Regions from separate parts of the Homo sapiens genome. Here region 1 is linked to region 2. The links come from fine-mapping of genetic effects on gene expression. Tissue or cell type: fibroblasts. Region 2 holds a variant in brackets; the other region holds the start of a gene. All regions are shown on one strand. Distances are between the middles of the regions.

What was found. PIP is the estimated chance that this variant, and not a neighbour inherited with it, causes the effect.
Region 1: it holds the start of LYG1, and the variant in region 2 is fine-mapped to the expression of LYG1 in fibroblasts (GTEx, PIP 0.98).

The regions. Positions count from the first base shown.
Region 1 is chr2:99,296,434-99,306,562 of GRCh38, forward strand. It overlaps LYG1 (lysozyme g1), which reads right to left and starts at 4,764. Exons shown (of 7, transcript NM_174898.3): 1 at 4,617-4,764; 2 at 2,026-2,116. All of the region lies in intron 1 of LOC107985923 (a long non-coding RNA gene), which reads left to right. It also overlaps a transcript of TXNDC9 not described here.
Region 2 is chr2:99,246,204-99,256,332 of GRCh38, forward strand. It overlaps LYG2 (lysozyme g2), which reads right to left and starts at 9,463. Exons shown (of 7, transcript NM_175735.4): 1 at 9,400-9,463; 2 at 8,817-8,934; 3 at 8,015-8,082; 4 at 477-617. The coding sequence starts at 8,057. The variant T/C (reference allele first, on the strand shown) is at 4,325.

The sequences.
Region 1 (10,129 bases), 50 kb after region 2:
CAACATGGAGCACCCGCTCATGTGCTCTCTCTCTCTCTTATCCCAACCATTCCCCTAATCACCTTCCATGAGTACAAACAGCCCTGGTTCTCCTACTGGCTACCAAACCAATACACAAATACCACCAAGGATAGTTTGCTGTTAACCTCAGGGAATGGTAGAGTTTCTGGACCTTTGCCTCCAAAGCGCCTCCCACCAAGCCCTGCCACTCCAGGGTGTATGTCATCATTGCCCCAGTCAGCAGAGCCTGGCAGCCTAGCATTTTGAATTATTACTGTCATTACATGTAGGAATGTGCATATAAACAAGGCACTTGGTACTTTCATAATGCTTCTCTCATCTCTTTTGTTTTGAGGTTAACCTTATGGGTTGTTTCTTTCAAACACCCAGGAAGAGATCACATCTCAAGATGGAGAGGCTTTAAGGAAGTCATTTGAAGCCAGGTGTGGTGGCATACACCTGTAGTCCTAGCTACTTGGGAGGCTGAGGCAGGAGGACTGCTTGAGCCCAGAGGGTCAAGGGTGCAGTGAGCTATGATCACACCACTGCACTCCATCCTGGGAAACAGAGCAAGAGCCTGTCTCAAAAAAGAAAAAGGAAGTTATTCGATTTCTGTCTTCTTAAACTGAGGGGGCATATGCCCTTCAGTTGCAGTCATGCTTTTTGTTATTCTCTCTACAACATTGAGATGGTCTGTCCGATTTTGCTTAGTTGAGCACAAAATGTCATGGTCAGTCCCAACACCAAAAAGATTCAGGGACCTGGAATCTTAGCTGGGTCTGCAGGAACGCTCAGATTTAATCACCCAACAGGAGTCATTTATTCAGCATCCTGAGCCTCCAGCAGTAAACAAGAGAGGACAACCAATCCCAGGAGAAAAGAATGGACAAAGAGCTGCTTGGGTATAGGAAAAGCTCATGGTCTCATGAAAGTGCATCACTGGCTTTATGGAAGGACCCTTCAGGAAAAAGCACTGCTCACATTCAAATGCTCCACCCAGGGTATTTCACTCTTTTTGCTGCTTTTCCAGGAAAGAAAAAATACTTCCTCTTGGAAACCCAAGTGGAAGGACTCAGCTTTTATTGTAACAGGAGAGCTACCGTATTTTCCATGCTTGGAACTAAATATCTGTGTTGAGAAGTCACTTTAATGAAAGAGTCTATGTAAATACATGTGCCACTTAATGGGAACACAGAATTACTTTCTAGTTGCTCCTGGGACCAGGTCATCAAGGTAAAGTTTTTCAATTTCATCAGGGAAGAGCAAGAAGTGACAATGGAATTTTTCTTTTTTTTCTTAGAGCCAGAGTTTTACTCTGTCACCCAGGCTGGAGTGCAATGGCACGATCACGGCTCACTGCAGCCTTGACCTCCTGGGCTCAAGTGATACTCCCACCTTAGCCTCCCAAGTAGCTGGGGCTAGAGGTGTATGCCACCATGCCCAGATAATTTTTTAGTTTTTATGTAGAAATGGGTCTCACTATGTTGCCCAGGCTGGTCTTGAACTCCAGGCTTCAAGTGATCCTTCCACCTCAGCTTCCTGAGTAGGTAGGGTTACAGGCTCAAGCCACCACACCTAGCTTGGAATTCTTAAATGGATGAACAATGTCATTTTGTCCATAAATACAGCATATTGAAGCAACCCAAACTCTATGGCCCAACTTTACAAGTGACGAAAAGTACTCTGTGTTTAGAAGAGATTGTTGAGACATCACTCGGGTGTGCTCAAAGAGTGTCTGTCAGTTCCCTATGACTCATTTGTTAATTCCCCTGTGGCTCCCTGCTTAAAACCATTATGAAGATGTCAGACCAAGGCAGCACAGTGGTCATGATGTCAAGCACAATGTTTATGGTAGCATCCCTCTTCTCCCTTCCCAGAGAGCAAAATAGTAACAAACAGCAAGGGGGTGTCAACAAGCTGGGGCAACAGGCCTGCCAGGCACACTGGAAACTGACAACCAGAGCATCCCTCAGGAGCTACCTCATGTTCCTGGTGGCTTTGATGGGGACATCTTCCTCTACTCACCCTCTCTCCACTGAGTACTTTGGAATTCCCAAAGCACTGTGTAAGTTTGTAAGGCATAATGGACCATGTCTTCTTCAGTTCATCAATTTTTCTAGAAAAGGTAGAAACAGGTATCTTTGGTCTTATGGTTTTCTCACCTTAGAAACTTTTCCATGAATGCTCTCAATCTTTACCTTGAACAGTATCATTGCAGGTCATTGGGGCCCTCCATCCAGCCCAGAAATGTGACGTATTAACACCTCAACGTGCCCAATGAAGGTGCCCCTGCCCCATTGTGGTGTCCCCATCTAATCCTGAGAGAACTGAGAACTCCTGTATGCATCCACATTAGGCATGGTCTCCTGCTCTAAGCTGTGTTGTCACCCTTGTTTATTGCTAACATGTCTCTGTGTCTACCTACTCATTGTGTGCCAACAGGCCTTTCTTTTTTTAATTTTTTAATTTTAATTTTAATTACTTTTTGTTTTGTTGGGTTTTGCTTTGTTTTGTTTGAGACAAAGTCTCACTCTGTCGCCCAGGCTGGAGTGCAGTGGTGCGATCTCAGCTCAATGCAACCTCCGCCTCTTGAATTCAAGTGATTATCTTGCCTCAGCCTCCTGAGTAGCTGAGACTACAGGCACTCCACGCCCAGCTAATTTTTGTATTTTTAGTAGAGATGGGGTTTCACCATGTTGGCCAGGCTGGTTGAGAACTCCTGACCTCAGGTGATCCACCCACCTCAGCCTCCCAAAATGCTGGGATCATAGGCATGAGCCACCGCGCCCAGCCCCTGGGTTTTTTTCTTTTTCTTTTCTTTTTGTTTTTTCTTTTTCTTTTTCTTTTTTTCTTTTTTTTTTTTTTTTAATCGAGACAAGGTCTCACTCTGTCTCCCAGGTGGGAGTGCAGTGGCCCAAAATTGTGGAATCATCTCACCATTATAAGCCTGTAAGAATGTCTCATTAGATTACTCTTTAATTTTTAAAATTGTTTTAATTTTTTTTTTTTCAAAACATAGTCTGACTGTCACCTAGGCTGGAGTGAAGTGCTGTGATCTCGGCTCACTGCACCCTCGACCTGCCTGAGCTCAGGTGATTCTCCTGCCTCAGCCTCCTGAGTAGCTGGGATTACAGCCCTGTGCCACCACGCCCAGCTAATTTTTGTATTTTTAGTAAAGACGGGGTTTCGCCATGTTGGCCAGGCTGGTCTCAAACTCCAGGGCTCAAGCAATCTGCCTGCCTCAGCCTCCCAAAGTGCTGGGAACCACCAACACCTGGCCTGTTTTAAAATTATTTTTAATTTTTTATTATTTTAACTTTTTAATTTTTTTAATTTTTGTTTTTTTAAAATTTTTAAATATTTATTTTATTCCATTTTTAAAATGTTTAAGTTTTTAAATTTCTTAAAGGCCTTACCAGTAGCATCATGTCGTACTCATCCTCTTCTTGCTATTCTAATCTTCTCCCTCCCTACATATATACACACACACGTACACACACACACGTACACACACACACATGCACGTACAGCAACACTCCAGCCCATTGCCTCACAGATTGCTATGCACCAACAGGCCTAAAATTAAAATAGTAATAGCAATGTAGTCACAAATATAAAATAATATAAAATTATTCTGCCACTAAGATCTTTTTTTTTTTGAGAAAAATACAACTTTTTAGAGCAAAAATATAGGGCAGCAACAGGAAGGCTCATTTTAAGCTGTTACGCTGCGTAGAGCTGCACCTTCACATGGCCTGTGAAAATACCTATTCACTGAATTTGGATTGTAATCAATAATTACCAGCCTAGAAGACCTCTGAAAGTTTGATCATTTTCTTCCCTCTGGGCAGGCAAATCTTCCCTGCATAGAGACACTGTGAGCTGGAAGGGAGTTCCTTCTCTCAGTGCGTCCTCTGTGCCTGCTTTTCCCATTTGCGTTTTTGAGAGTTCAGAACTCCAGGAAGGATCATCCTATGCTGGAGATTTCCCCGTGAACGTTTCCTTCTGCACAGAGCAAATCAGGGAGACTTGGCCCCTCTGTTCCGTCTATGGACTCTAGAGGCGTATCTGTCTTTTTAGTCTGTTAGCCGAGGCTGTTAGACATGTTGGCCTTAGTTCTTACACAGCTTGCAGAGAAAATAAGATTGTTATAGAACCAATACTCATGGTCTATGGGTTAATGTAGCATTGGCAAGACTGCCCATGAGGGCAGGCAAGGGATTTACCGTCTGGCAAAATACAAACACCTTAGTCTTTTGGCTTTCAGTTAACAAATATGACGTCGCATTTGGCCCTATTACAGCTACAGTTAAGTGCACACACATTTCTTTTCTCCCATTATTCGATTTGCACATGCTCACAAATCCAAAAGTAATGACATACTTGCATTAAAAGATATCTAAATTTTGATGAGTGTTGTAATGAACAGGAAAAATTATTCTATCATCTACAAATCTTTTCAAACTTGGGTTTTCTTTGCAAGGTCCTTAAGTTTCGCCTGAGTCCAATATTTCTTATGCAGCAGAGACACAATCATTGCCAACTGATCACCATACACTGGATTTTCATCCTCAATAAGCCCGAGTGTAAGATCCATGCCTCTGCTTCACACTCACCTGTCTTCAGTCAGTGCTCCTCCTTAGAGGTGGTGAGCCCACAGCGATTTATATAGAGTCCTGTTCTCTTGTTAAAAGTGTTCATCTCATCCTATTTTGGAGAGATTTATGACATCTCATAAATTATAATAATAATCATAATTATTATAAATACTCCGAACTTATATAGGGCCTTTTATTCGAGAATGTCCTGGCATTTTGCAAACATTAACCAATTTGTTTCTTGCCATACCTCAGAAGGCAGATCCTAGTTGTAGTTTAACTTTGACACATTGAGGTCCAACACTTGTCTTTATTCACATCATTTTCTGGGAATGTGGGTTAGGTAAGAAAACAAGGAAGGAAGAGAGAGAGAAAGAGAGAGAGAGTGAGAAGGAGAGAGAGAGTGAGAAGGGGAAGGGAGGAAGGGAAGAGGAAGGGAGGAAGGGAAGGAAGAAAGAAAAGGAAGAAGGAAGGAAGGAAGGGAGGGAGGGAATTGAACTTGGTGTGTCAGAAACTCATTATTGGTTTGTATTTCAGGTAAGCAGAGCGCCTAGACCAGGGGTTGGCAGCTTTTTCTTACAGACCCAGACAGGTTTTTGGGCTACGTGGTCTTTATAATGCCTCTGACATTGTAGCATGAGAGTGATCATAGATAATATTTAAATGAATGGCCAAGACTGTGTTCCAAAAAAAAAACTTTCTTTACTACACAGGTGGTGGCCCTAGGGCCGTAGGTTGCTGGCCCCTGTTCTGAACCACCGAGAGATACCAGTTCACATGTCCTCAGTTCAGCAATGTGGGGAGAGATGATCGGCTGGATGATGCTATTTTACAGACACCCAGGACCTACAGCGTGTTCCAAATGTCTACATCAATAAGTACTTTGAGAGGGTTCATATGAAGTTTCCAGGAAGGATTCTTTCCCAAGTTGTGGAAAGGGTGCATTTCATGACTGAAAGAGGGAGCCCCCTCCCTCACCACACCCTGTGCCCCAGCTCAGCTGAACAGCTTGATTTTCCCCAAACACAGCGCCATTCTTTGCACTAGGCATTCCTACAGGATCTTTCCTTTTTATCTAAACCCTCAGGGACAGGGGCTGTGTCTCATTCGTCTTTATAATACCAGCATGCAACACTCTGCATGATACATATTAGACACTCAGTAAAACACGTGGAATCAATGGCTTGCTTATCGGCTGACTGGTATACAGTCTGTTTCTTCTGCATCCCCTGCCTTAGCTCCCTCCCCATACCACAACTCAAACACAAGCTCCGTGAGAGCTGTGAATCTGGCTACTTCATTTATAAGACTGAGTCTTCAGTGCCCAGATAACAGCCTGGCACACTGTAAGTGTTCAGTAAATCTTTGTTGAATCAGTCAATGACTGAAGAATTCCTACAACCTCACCCAGCAAGATTTGGACTGGGCTTCCAATGCTGGGCCCCAGGTTAGACGTGTGTTCCTTGTGTTTCAAGCAACATGTGGATATTTCTACCATAGCACCTACAGCACTTTGGTTTGTTGTTGTCTTGAGAACAAAAACAAAGGCTTTTTTCTCCTGTATTCCTTATGGCACATAAGGGGTATTCAGTACATGTTTACGGAATGAGTAAATGAATGATTTAAAGCGTATTTATGACTTTTTGGAAGTCACTCACTCTGCATCCCCAGTGCAGACATTGAGGGTTAAGATTTTGTTATTCTCAGCCGGGCACAGAGCCTCACGTCTGTAATCCCAGCGCTTTGGGAGGCCGAGGCAGGTGGATCACTTGAGGTCAGGAGTTCGGACCAGCCTGGCCAACATGGCGAAACCCCATCTCTACTAAAAATACAAAAATTATCCAGGCATGGTGGCACACACCAGTAATCCCAGCTACTCGGGAGGCTGAGGCAGGAGAATCAGTTGAACCAAGAGGGAGAGGTTGCAGTAAGCCAAGATCATGCCAGTGTACTCCAGCCTGGGCCACAGAGCAAGCCTCCATCTGAAAAAAAAAAAAAAGAAGATTTTGTTTTTCTCTACTTGTGACTGAGATGGTGAGACCACAAGGCAGGGCACTGTGAGCAAGGGTCCAGATTTGGACACCCAGGGAGTTCCTGAACTTTAACTCTGGGAGGGGAGTGTGAGAACACTGGGTTCCTCTCGGTTGTTGGCAGAGTTGGGGTAAAAAGAGAACTAATGCACCCATTAAAAACTCTATCCTGACCCCCAAAATGGAACTCATCCATTTTATTTTTTCCACCAAGCTCTAGCACATACCAACAATTAAAAGGTATTACAGTGTGGGGAAATCTGGGGATGCCCAGCTCCACCTACAAAAGCACCCTGTCATCAGCCCAGAGGGCCATGTTAGCATCCTGGGAGGTTCTCCTGGGCAGCAGCCAGCATGTTGCCTGGCAAAGGCTCCACAGAGACGAAATGGCTTCTCACAAACCCTGCCTCTCTATGATGACTTCCACCTCCTCACCTGCTGCACCTGGGTCCCCACCCTAAGAATCCTAGAAGCTGAGGAGGTCGTTCTCCATCCAGCCTCCGGGACACTCCGCAGGCACATGACGGTCAGATTTATGTTTTAAAAAGTGTCCCCTGGCTGCTGATTGCATTGGAGGTGAGCCAGAGTGACTCGGGAGACTTCACAGAAGACCAGAAGAGAGATGATGGTTGGACTAGAGTGACGGGGCTATGGCTTGGCTGTGTCTCCACTGAAATCTCATCTCAAATTGTAGCTTCCATAATTCCCTTGCATTGTGGGAGGGACACAGTGGGAGACAATTGAATCATGGAGGCAGTTTCCCCCATACTGTTCTCCTGGTAGTGAATAAGTCTCAAGAGATCTGATGATTTTATAAGAAGAAACCCCGGCCGGGCACGGTGGCTCACGCCTGTAATCCCAGCACTTTGGGAGGCCCAGGCAGGCGGATCACGAGCTCAAGAGATAGAGAACATCCTGGCTAACACAGTGAAACCCCGTCTCCACTAAAAATACAAAAAAATTAGCCAGGCGTGGTGGGGGCACCTGAGACTTCAGGGGATTGTTGGGAAGGCAAGATTGGTTTTGAAATGTGAGGACATGAGATTTGGGAGGGGTCAGAAGTGGAATGATATGATTTGGCTCTGTCCCCACCAAAATCTCATCTCAAATTGTAGCTTGCATAATTGCCTTGTGTTGTGGGAGGGACCCAGTGGGAGACAATTGAATCATGGAGGCAGTTTCCCCCATACTGTTCTCATGGTAGTGTATAAGTCTCATGAGATCTGATGATTTTATAAGAGGAAACCCCTTTCACTTGGCTCTCACTCTTCTCTTGTCTGCTGCCATGTGAGACATGCCTTTCACCTTCCGCCATGATTGTGAGGCCTCCCCAGACAAGTGGAACTGTGAATCTGTTAAACCTCTTGCTTTTGTAAATTGCTCAGTCTCAGGTATGTCTTTATCAGCAGCATGAAAGTGGCTAAGAGAAAAAGGAAAGATATTACAGATCTATTTTAGAGGTGGAATTGACAGGACTCAGTTTGGGACAAGACGCCAAGGATGAGAGCAAAGAAGAGGACATAAGTGCCTGGGAGGATGGTACTAAGTCTGGAATGCTGAAGATGAAAGCACATTTACCAAAGAAGATGAAGTTTTAGGCTGGGTGGAGTGGCTCACGTCTGTGGTTCCAACACTTTAGGAGGTCAAGGCACTTCAAGACCAGCCTGGGCAACATAGCAACATCCTGTCTCAATTTATGAAAAAGAAAAAGAAAGGATTATGTTTTAACTCCCATGTAACAAACCTACACGTGTACACCTCAATCTAAAAATGTTTTTAAAGAGAAAAAATAACAAATTGTGGTGTAGATATGGAGAAATGGAGCCCTTATACACTCTAGGTGGGTATATACACGAATCTAGCCATTATGGAAAACAGTATGGAGATGCCTCAAAAAATTAAAAGTAGAAGTGGCATATGACCCAGAAATCTCACTGCTGGGTATGTATCCAAAGAAAATGGATATGTCAAAGGGAAATATGCACTCCCATGTTGACTGCAGCATTATTTGTAATAGCCAAGACACAGAATCATCCTAAGTGTCCATCAACACATGAGTGGATAAAGAAAATGCAGTATATACACATAATGGAATAATATTTTGTCATTAAAAAGCATGAAATCCTGTCATTTGCAGCAACACGATCAACCTAAAGGACATTAAGTGAAATAAGGCACAGAAAGACAAAATCACCCATTTGTGAAATCTAAAAAAGTTGATCATGTGTAATGGCCAGGTGTGGTGGCTCACGCCTGTAATCCCAGCACTTTGGGAGGCCGAGGCAGGCAGATTACCTGAGTCGGGAGTTCGAGACCAGCCTGGCCAACATGGTAAAACCCCGTCTTTACTAAAAGTACAAAAATTAGCCGGACATGGTGGTGGGCACCTGTAATCCCAGCTACTCAGGAGGCTGAGGCAGGAGAATTGCTTGAACCTGGAAGGTGGAGGTTGCAGTAAGCCAAGATCCCGCCACTGCACTGGGAAACAGAGCAAGACTCCATCTCAAGAAAAAAAAAAGGCGATCTCATAGAAGTAAAGAGCAGAATAGTGGCTACTAGAGGCTGGGGAGGAATGGGGAGAGATTGGTTGCATGCAAAATTACAGCTAGATAGGAGGAGTAAGTTCTGGTGTCCTATTGCACACTGCAGTGACTATATTTAACAATATTGTAGTGTATACTACAAAATATCTAAAAGGGAAGCTATTTAGTATTCTCATCAATTTGAGGTGATGGATATGCTAAATACCCTGATTTGATCATTACACAACTTATCCCATAAATCTATGCAATTCTTATGTATAAATTAAAAATAAAACTTTTACAAAATATATAATATCTTTTTATTTTGAGACGGAGTCTCGCTCTGTCACCCAGATGGAGTGAGCGTGATCTCAGCTCACTGCAACCTCCGCCTCCTGGGTTCACACCATTCTCCTGCCTCAGCCTCCCGAGTAGCTGGGACTACAGTAGCCTGCCACCATGCCCGGCTAATTTTTTGTATTTCTAGTAGAGGCGGGGTTTCACCGTGTTAGCCAGGATGGTCTCGATCTACTGACCTCATGATCCGCCGGCCTCAGCCTCCCAAAGTGCTGGGATTACAGGCATGAGCCACCACACCCTGCCTCATGATTTCTTATAAGTAAAAAACACACAAAAAAGGAGAGACCAGAGAATTGAATCCAGCCATCTAAATGGACATTGAACCCACTCAGCATGACAGAGTCAAGAATAAGACTTTGAGACAAGTGTGAACGTTTTCTTGAAAAAGTGAGGATCCAGGAGGTCTGAAAGGACAAGCCAGGGACATGGTGGCTCATAGCACAAGTTTCTGAGACACAGCCCCTGTCCCTGAGGGGTTAGATAAAAAGCAAACAGCCTGTAGGAAGGCCTAATGCAAAGAATGGCGCTGTGTTTGGGGAAAATCAAGCTGCTTAGTTGAGCTGGGGCACAGGGTGTGGTGAGGGAGGGGGCTCCCTCTTTCAGTCGTGAAATGCACCCT
Region 2 (10,129 bases):
GTTCTGTTCTATTGGGAAGTATTCCCCTCCTTGCTGAGTCTTTGGGCTCTGATTTGTAAATTTGAGGGGTTGGGGTCTGATGTGACCTTGTGGTTGCTGCCAGCTCCGACACTCTAAAACCAGGATAACGTGATGAAGACGACTTTGGAACAGTATTGCTTCAAATGGTCATGTGTAACATGAAGCAAACACAGCAGCACCACCCAAAAAACAAAGCCAGAGTCTAATATTTATTCAAGCAGTAGTTTCAATACATGGAAATAAACACAGCTGGACAAAGTTTGGAAAGAATGGGGGTGGAAAATGAAAAGAAGCTGGTTGTTAGATTGGTCAGGATTGTGGTTTTTGCTCATTTTTAATTTTGATACTATTGTCATAATGATGATTATACCTTTTCAAAATTAAGTGACTTCCTAAGAAAGAATCTGAAAACGATGAAAGGGGGAAGCCAGTCATTTGCTCTGCTTTTCACTTACCGCAGTTCATCACACTGTTTGCATCACAAGTGGCCCCAGAGGTCTTCATGGTCATGATGTCCCCATAGCAGCCGTGGTACAGGCGTGGATGTAGGTGAGGCTTCATTGAGTGACTGAAGGGGTATGAGCCCCTGGAAGTGCCTAGGAGGCAGAAGTGTAACTCACATGAATCCTCTGAGAAGATATTACTTGGGTTGCTGCAATAAACATCACTAAACCAAAGGCAGAAGGCCACAGACAGAACTCCCCAACTCTCTTGTTGCCATTATTTGTTCCTCAGACAGAAGTTCCCCATGCCCACTCTGCTCCGATCTTTTGTTTTGTTTTGTATTAACACAGGACGTAATCTGAAAACTCTATGCAAAATATTATGAAATTCATCTCTTATAGATCCTAAATACATGTGCAGTCTTTTTTTTTCCTTTTTTTAAGAGACAAGGTCTTGCTCTGTTGTCCAGGCTGGAGTGCAGTGGCATGATCATAGCTCGCTGCAGGCACCAACACCTGGGCTCAAACTATCCTCCCACCCCAGCCTCCTGAGTAGCTGGAACCACAGGTGCATATCACCAGGACTGGCTTATTTTCTCTTTTTGTAGAGATGGGGTTTTGCTATGTTGCCCAAGCTAGTCTCAAACTCCTGTGCTCAAGCGATCCTCTCTCCTTGGCCTCCCAAAGTGCTGGGATTACAGGCACTGTAGTCATACCATGCTCTATGTCAGAATTAAAACTGACAGGTTTTTAAGCAGGAAACTTGAGAGTTTTTTTTTTTTTTTTAAGATTCAGGGGGTACATGTGCAGGTTTGTTACGTGGGCATATTGTGTGATGCTGAGGATTGGCCTTCTATTGATCCTTCACCCAAATAGTGAACACAGTACCTGATGTGTAGTTTTCAACCCTTGCCTCCCTACCTTCCTCCCTCCCTCCTTCCTTTTACAGTCCCCAGTGTCTATTGTTTTGAGAGGAATTTTAAAACATTTCTGACACAAATGCCTCTGGAGATGTGAACATCTAGATTAACAATTTGCCTTTCTTAAGCCAAAATTGACAAATGGGGTCTAATTAAACTAAAGAGCTTCTGCACAGCAAAAGAAACTACCATCAGAGTGAACAGGCAACCTACAAAATGGGAGAAAATTTTCGCAACCTACTCATCTGACAAAGGGCTAATATCCAGAATCTACAATGAACTCAAACAAATTTACAAGAAAAAAACAAACAACCCCATCAAAAAGTGGGCGAAGTACATGAACAGACACTTCTCAAAAGAAGACATTTATGCAGCCAAAAAACACATGAAAAAATGCTCACCATCACTGGCTATCAGAAAAATGCAAATCAAAACCACAATGAGATACCATCTCACACCAGTTAGAATGGCAATCATTAAAAAGTCAGGCAACAACAGGTGCTGGAGAGGATGTGGAGAAATAGGAACACTTTTACACTGTTGGTGGGACTGTAAACTAGTTCAACCATTGTGGAAGTCAGTGTGGCGATTCCTCAGGGATCTAGAACTAGAAATACCATTTGACCCTGCCATCCCATTACTGGGTATATACCCAAAGGACTATAAATCATGCTGCTATAAAGACACATGCACACGTATGTTTATTGCGGCACTATTCACAATAGCAAAAACTTGGAACCAACCCAAATGTCCAACAATGATAGACTGGATTAAGAAAATGTGGCACATATACACCATGGAATACTATGCAGCCATAAAAAATGATGACTTCATGTCCTTTGTAGGGACATGGATGAAATTGGAAATCATCATTCTCAGTAAACTATCACCAAGGACAAAAAACCAAACACCACATGTTCTCACTCATAGGTGGGAATTGAACAATGAGAACACATGGACACAGGAAGGGGAACATCACACTCTGGGGACTGTTGTGGGGTGGAGGGAGGGGGGAGGGATAGCATTAGGAGATATACCTAATGCTAAATGACGAGTTAATGGGTGCAGCACACCAGCATGGCACATGTATACATATGTAACTAACCTGCACATTGTGCACATGTACCCTAAAACTTAAAGTATAATAATAATAAAATAAAATAAAATAAAATAAAAATAAATAAATAAAATTCAAAAAAAACCAATTTGCCTTTGTTTAGAAAGATAAGAAAGAAGGGCACCATAACAATTTAAATATATTCTTATTATATATCATTTACTGTGAAGTTGAGTTCCTATGTATATTTAATAAAATTAGAAGTAAAAATTGAATTTGCCAAAATAATTTAAGTCAAATCTATTCTTGTCTTTTTGTTCTGTCATTAAAAAGTGAATTTCTGTCCAAGTCTACCTGTTACAGGAGAGGCAGAGCTTTTGCTAAAGGAGATACAAAGTTATTTTCTGTAATGTTGAAAAGTTTGTTCTAACGGTTTCAAGGACTGTTAACTTGTACCTTAAGAGTCCAAATATTTGTTATAAGACAGTACTTAGGGCTGGATGTTGTGGCTTATGCCTAGAATCCCAGCACTTTGAGAGGCTGAGGCAGGACGATTGCTTGAGCGTAGGAGTTTGAGACCAGCCTATGCAACATGGCAAAACTCATTTCTACAAAAAATACAAAAATTAGCCTGGTGTAGTGGCACATGCCTGTAGTCCCAGTTGCATGGGAGACTGAGACAGGAAGATTGATTGAACCCGGGAGGTCGAGGCTGCAGTGAGCTTTGATGGTGCCACTGCACTCCAGCCTGGGCAACAGAACAAGACCCTGTCTCAAATCTCAAAAAAAAAAAAAAGGATTTTGTTAAAATGTTTGATGTAAAAAAAATAGAATCTGGTTGGGCGTGGTGGCTCACACCTGTAATCCCAGCACTTTGGGAGGCCAAGGCAGGCGGATCACCTGAGGTCGGGAGTTCAAGACCAGTCTGACCAACACGGAGAAACCCATCTCTACTAAAAATACAAAATTAGCCAGGCATGGTGGTGCATGCCTGTAATCCCAGCTACTCGGGAGGCTGAGGCAGAAGAATCGCTTGAACCCAGGAGGAGGAGGATGCAGTGAGCCGAGATCGCGCCATTGCACTCCAGCCTGGGCAAAAAGAGCGAAACTCTGTCTCAAAAAAAAAAAAAAAAAAAAAAAAGAATCTAACCACTTCTCCCACCTCTGCTTCTGCCATAGTCCCAGCCAGCATCATTGCTCATCTGGACTCTCCTAACAGCCTTCTAACTGACCTCCCTGATTCACTCTTGCAGCCCATCCTCTACTTAGTAGACGGAGTGGCCCTGTGGGAATATGCATGGGCTGCTATCAGTCTTCTCTCTTAACCTTCCAGTGGCTTTCTCCTCCTTTAGGGGAATAGCCAAGTCCATCCTGCAGCCTCCAAGACCTACTAGATGTGGCCCTCTGCTCCTGTTCCTACTTCTCTTTCCCTTTGTTCACTCTCCTCCAGCCACATTCTTCTTTGTGCTTATCCTTCAACATGCCAGGCAGGTTTCTGCCTCAAAGCCTGTATGTTTGTGGTCCCTTTTGCCTAGAATGCTATTCCTCCTGGTATCTACATGATCATGCCTTCAGGTCTCTGTCCAAATATCACCTTATCAGCAGAATATATAGCGAGTTTATAGACAAAAAAAGAAAATAGTCCTTAAACATATAAAAGACGTTAAACCACACTCAAAAGAAGAGAAAGGCCACATTAAAACATCATTATAACAGCATTTTCCAACTCTTTTTTTTTTTTTTTTTTTGAGACAGAGTCTTGCTCTGTCGCCCAGGCTGCAGTACAGTGGTGCGATCATGGCTCACTGCAAGCTCCGCCTCCTGGGTTCATGCCATTCTCCTGCCTCAGCCTCCCCAGCAGCTGGGACTACAGGCGCCTGCCA[T/C]CACACCCGGCTAATTTTTTGTATTTTTAGTAGAGGCGGGGTTTCAGCATGTTAGCCAGGATGGTCTCGATCTGCTGACCTTGTGATCCGCCCACCTTGGCCTCCCAAAGTGCTGGGATTACAGGCGTGAGCCACCACGCCTGGCTGCATTTTCCAACTCTTTAGTTGGCAAGAGCCCAAAGGTTTGGCAATACCCTCTGTGGGAGAGGTTGTGAGGAAATAGGCTGTCACACACATTGCTGTGGAACACAGTTTTGTGATAGGCTGTTCATTCCAGCACTGTTGATAAGAGCAAAGGACTGCAAACAACACAAATGTCATTAATTTAGGGACTGGTTGAGTAAGTGATGCTACGTCCACAGTGGAGCACTATGCAGCTGCAAAAGGAAAGAATAAGACCTGTATATACTCCTGTAAAATTCTCTCCAGGGACAAAATAGTATTTATAGAATTGTACTCTTTGTGTAAGAAAGGTAAGAAAATACAATCGTATATTTTGTGTGATTTGCTCATATTTTCAAAAGAAACAATACAAGGATGAATGAAAAACTGATAAAAATTGTTAGTTATGGAGAGAGTAAGAGGAAGGTAAAGGGAACAGGGATAGGGGATAGACTAACTATCTTTTTTAAAGTTTTTATTTTGGAACCATGTAAATGTTATCATAAATTTTAAAATTAAATCAAATGGGGAAAAATGGAATCATAAAAAAGAAGAACAAATGAACATAACTCTATAACAAATTGAAAGATTAATAAACACATAGAGGAGAATTATCTTAAGTGACTTTAAAATATATCCATATAAGTCTATACCACTACATAGGAATCCATCCTGTGAACATAAATAATCACAAGAAAATCTTAAATTATATTTACTGTCTCATTGTTGGTTGGTAATACTGTCATACTTATTTTGACACTATTGTATGTAAATAAGTAATAATGCTAATGTCATTAGAACTAGGATTTTTAGTGTAAGATAGCAGAGGTACAAATATAAAACTGATGTAAAATGCTTGCATTCTTAAATATAAATGTGAAATATCTGAATGCATAGTTGTTTTCCTTTTAAAAATATATATTTTCTAGTTCCTGCCACTGAAAACACCTGAAATAAACGACAGCTCCATAGCAATGGAGCACTTTTACTTCCCACACTGTGGTCTCTAAATACCATTTCCTGCTAAGTGGAACCAGCGCTCCTCAGAATAATGGCTGATTGCCTGCCTGGGGCAGGAAATGTTCAAGATGAACCAGGAACATCTTTTTGTGCCAGAGCTGGTCCTTATATGTTAGAGACACATTAAAAAAAAAAATTTTTTTTTCCAGATGGAGTCTCACTCTGTCGCCCAGGCTGGAGTGCAGTGGCCATTCTCCTGCCTCAGCCTCCCAAGTAGCTGGGACTACAGGTGCCTGCCACCACACCTGGCTAATTTTTTGTATTTTTAGTAGAGATGGTGTATCACTGTGTTAGCCAGGATGGTCTCAATCTCCTGACCTCTTGATCCGCCTGCCTCGGCCTCCCAAAGTGCAGGGATTACAGGTGTGAGCCACCGTGCCCAGCCCAAAAATTTTTACAGGTGAAATGTTTTTATCTCACTGCAAGCTCCGCCTCCCAAGTTCATGCCATTCTCCTGCCTCAGCCTCCCAAGTAGCTGGGACTACAGGTGCCTGCCACCACACCTGGCTAATTTTTTGTATTTTTAGTAGAGATGGTGTATCACTGTGTTAGCCAGGATGGTCTCAATCTCCTGACCTCTTGATCCGCCTGCCTCGGCCTCCCAAAGTGCAGGGATTACAGGTGTGAGCCACCGTGCCCAGCCCAAAAATTTTTACAGGTGAAATGTTTTTATCTCCCTCCCTTCCTCTCACTCTTTCCCTCTCTCTTCCCTTTTTCCTCTCACTCTCTTACTGTTCGTTCCTCTCACTAGAAGATAAATTTCATTAGGTCAGATACTAGATGTTTTTCTCTGCTATATCCTCCTCAGCACCTGGAACAATGCTTGGCACAAAGTAGACATTTAATAAACATTTGCTGAATGGAAGAATGGATAGTTGGATGGATGAAGGAATGAGACAGAAAGGGATTGTTTAAATTATCTGGATCAAGTGTCCTTATATTGACAGGTTCAGTATCCTTTCACTGGGAGGCAGTCTTTGCCAGGCTCACTGTGTGGCCCACAGACCACAGGCATCAAAGTTACCCAGGAAGCTTATTAAAAATGCTTATCACTGGGCCGGGCGTGGTGGCTCACACCTATAATCCCAGCACTTTGGGAGGCCAAGGCGGACGGATCACGAGGTCAGGAGATCAAGACCATCCTGGGTAACACAGTGAAACCCTGTCTCTACTAAAAATACAAAAAAATTAGCTGGGCATGATGGTGGGCGCCTGTAGTCCCAGCTACTTGGGAGGCTGAGGCAGAAGAATGGTATGAACCCAGGAGGCAGAGCTTGCAGTGAGCTGAGATCGCACCACTGCACTCTCCAGCCTGGGCGACAGAGCAAGACTCTGTCTCAAAAAAAAAAAAAAAAAAAAAGGCTTATCACTGGGCTTTTCACACCAGATCTACTGCACCAAAATCTTGCAGTATAAGGCGAAAGAAGCTGCCTTTTACCCAGCATTCCCAGTTGACTCTTACACATGTTTATGAACCACTGCTTTAAGGGAACTGGAATATGACCATGGACCCTACGCTGCCTGTGTAGGCCTTATAAACACACAAGCCCTTTTTAAATTAAGAGTCACCTTTCAGCTATACACAGCTAATATGGTAGCTCATAATTAATCTACTGGCTATTTAACTCTGCTCTCACCTGGCAATCTAAAAAGAGTAAAAATTTAAAACTATGTTGCCCTGTTTTGACCATAAGTAACTGGAAATTACTTTCGGGTAGCCTTGTTTTTCCAAATTTAGAATTAAACATTTTAGAAACACTTTCCTTTCAGTCACCATTCTATAATTAAAGACAACTTGAACATTGCTCATAATGGCTTTTCATTTTGCTTAGGTCAGAGTTTTCACATTCTCTTATTCAAGATCCCTTACCAACTTACCAACCTATCTTTCCAGCCTTCCCCCCAGAAACCCCCTCGTCTGTCCAGACCACACTGACCCAAAGACTTTTCATTCATTTCTGCCTCTGCTTTTTTACTGAAATCTTTCTTCCCATCCAGCAGGCTCTTCCTTTTTCTTATTAAATCACCAAGCATCCTTCAATTGACATGTCCCCCCCAAAAGCCTTTCACATCTGAGCATTCTAGTTGGATGTGAGCTCTTCCTCCCAAACCTTTCCCAGACTAGTGCTTTTTTCCCACCTATACACATTGAACTCTCATCCACTGCTTGGCATTGATAATTGTCTCTTCATGTGTTTTGCTTCCAAGGCACTGTTCCATATACCTCTCGGTAAGGTATCCAGCCTGATAGGTGCATTGTCAGACAGGAAGTAAGCAGATCAATAAATATTAGATTATTTGAAATTCCCATAGATCCTGTTTTTCACCTGCTTAGCAAGCAGAACACACTGTTAATTATAGAAATAATAGTTGATTAATGGCCAAGCTGGTCAGAATGAGAGCCCACTCTTCCATTACAGGTAATCATTGCTCTTTCTGATTCATGATTGTGCTGGAGGTTTTTGTGGACACCCTGTGAACAATGCTAAATCTCAGCCAGTGACTTACCAATGAGGGCAATTAGTCCCCAAAACACCACGGAGGATAACATGGCGGGGAATCTTATCTTCCAGGACCTGCTCTGATTTGAAATAGAAACTGGTTAATTTTAAAACCTGAAAATTTCCTAAAGAAAAATTTGCTTTGATATTTTAAAAAGTTTAGAGTTATTTCCAATTCACTACTCATTTCCCTGTTTCAAGATAGTATTCTCACAGGCTCAGTACATAGTTTGTTGGCACACTCTCTTTCTTAAGCATAAACTCCTAATCTCACTTCAATCCAATTTCATATTGACATGAGTCATGCGTATCTTACATATGTAACTAAATATACACTCCCATCCCACCTCTAAGCTTGGTAACACCACAATTTTGTTCCCTTTCTTTTTAAAAAAAAAAATACTGATCTTTTCATTCTAGTTATTCACCCTACCCCTGGCTTCAAGGATCAGTTTTGGTCTTTCATTCATTTATTTAGAAATGGGATCTTGCTCTGTCACCCAGGCTGGAGTGCAGTGGCATAATCATAGCTCACTATGGCCTCAAACTCCTGGGCTCAAGCGATCCTCCCACCTCAGCCTCCTGAGTAGCTGGGGCGACATATGCGTGCCACCATGCCTGGGTGTTTCCATTCTTATACCAGGGTCTCCGTAGGGAAAACAAAATAAAACAAAATACCAACAGGAGCATGAGAACGTGACTTAGAAGAGGTTTCCTCTGCTCCATTTCTTCCTCAATCAACTCTATTCTTGGTTTCATTCAAATGGTAGCTTATAAGTTTTACAAGACATAAGAAGGCCAGCACTAACCTTGTTTGCAACCTTACAGAGAAAATCTCCCCTCTCTGTTTGCAAAGGTCTTCTGTACTCAGCAGCAAACTGCACTTCAAGCTTTTACAAAGCGACGGCCTTTGTCCTGTAACATAGGCTTAACAATTGGAGAATCCATTAGTCAGTAGATCACTGCGCACCTGGCTTCAACAGAGTAGACATCAGCGTGGCTCTACTGCTGTGGAGGAAACTTTTAAACACCAGCATGAAGACTCACCTGGCTTTTCTTACCTTCGTCCTGTACCAATGATCATTAGAGGAGCTTTATATATGGTTTAAAACCCTCTCTTTAAACCATTGACCTCATTAGGCCTGGTTATAATAGTACTTAGGACTTAGGTGACCCAATTAATAAGAGGATTTCAAAGGGCTTATTAACCACTATTAATTAATTAACCTAATGAACCCCCAAGTTGCTCAGGAGGCATATTTTGATAGATTGTTTCTAGATATCTAAAATTGTGCCAAACAGCTTCTAAATTTGCGAATAAGAAACAGATAATTCACTTTAAAAGGATAACAGGAAATACTAGCAATTTTTATTCTTGGATTGGTTATTTACCTGAAATATTGGGTCTCCTGCTTTTTGTTCCCATTCCAATGTCATATGATCCCCGTACCAGTATGTCACATGATCTCAAACCACTATGTCACATGATCATGATAGGTGAACTTGGCTCCTTACTCCAATCCCACTTCTGAGAAAAAGGTGCAAGTGTGGCCACCTGCTCTAGGAGATCAATGCAAAACCAGGGAGTAGCAACGTGAGTGCTCATTTGCCCATACTTGCTAAGGATATGGGAAAAAAGATTATAGCCAGGGATGAAAACTTCTTCAAGAAGAGAGTATCTTTCTTCAGGCTTATGTCCAAAGGAAGAGAGGAAGCATATTGTGCAGCCCCAGGAACAGGAAATGGAAGGGACGTTCTTGAAACAGGCAAAGCACATTGCGCTGAGGGGAGGAAGAAGTCTGGTCTGGGTCCTTCCACAAGCGTGTCCAGTTTCTCAGACTGCACACAGTCCTCCCCCACATCCACTGAGTGAAGAAAGGTGGAAGGCAGCTGTACAGGGAACAGGAAGACAAAACCACAGGCAACTTCCCAGCTCCCTGGCAATAAAACCACCTCCACTCCCAGGAGAACATGCCCTCCCCAAGCTGAGGTCTGCACAGTCCACTGGCATTCACTTCTGCCCTGCCTGCCTTCCTGCTTGTAGAACAGACGTCTCTGGCATGGCCTCTAGCCTTCCATCCCTGGAAGAGTGGCAGGGCTGTTCTGAGCCAATGGATGATTC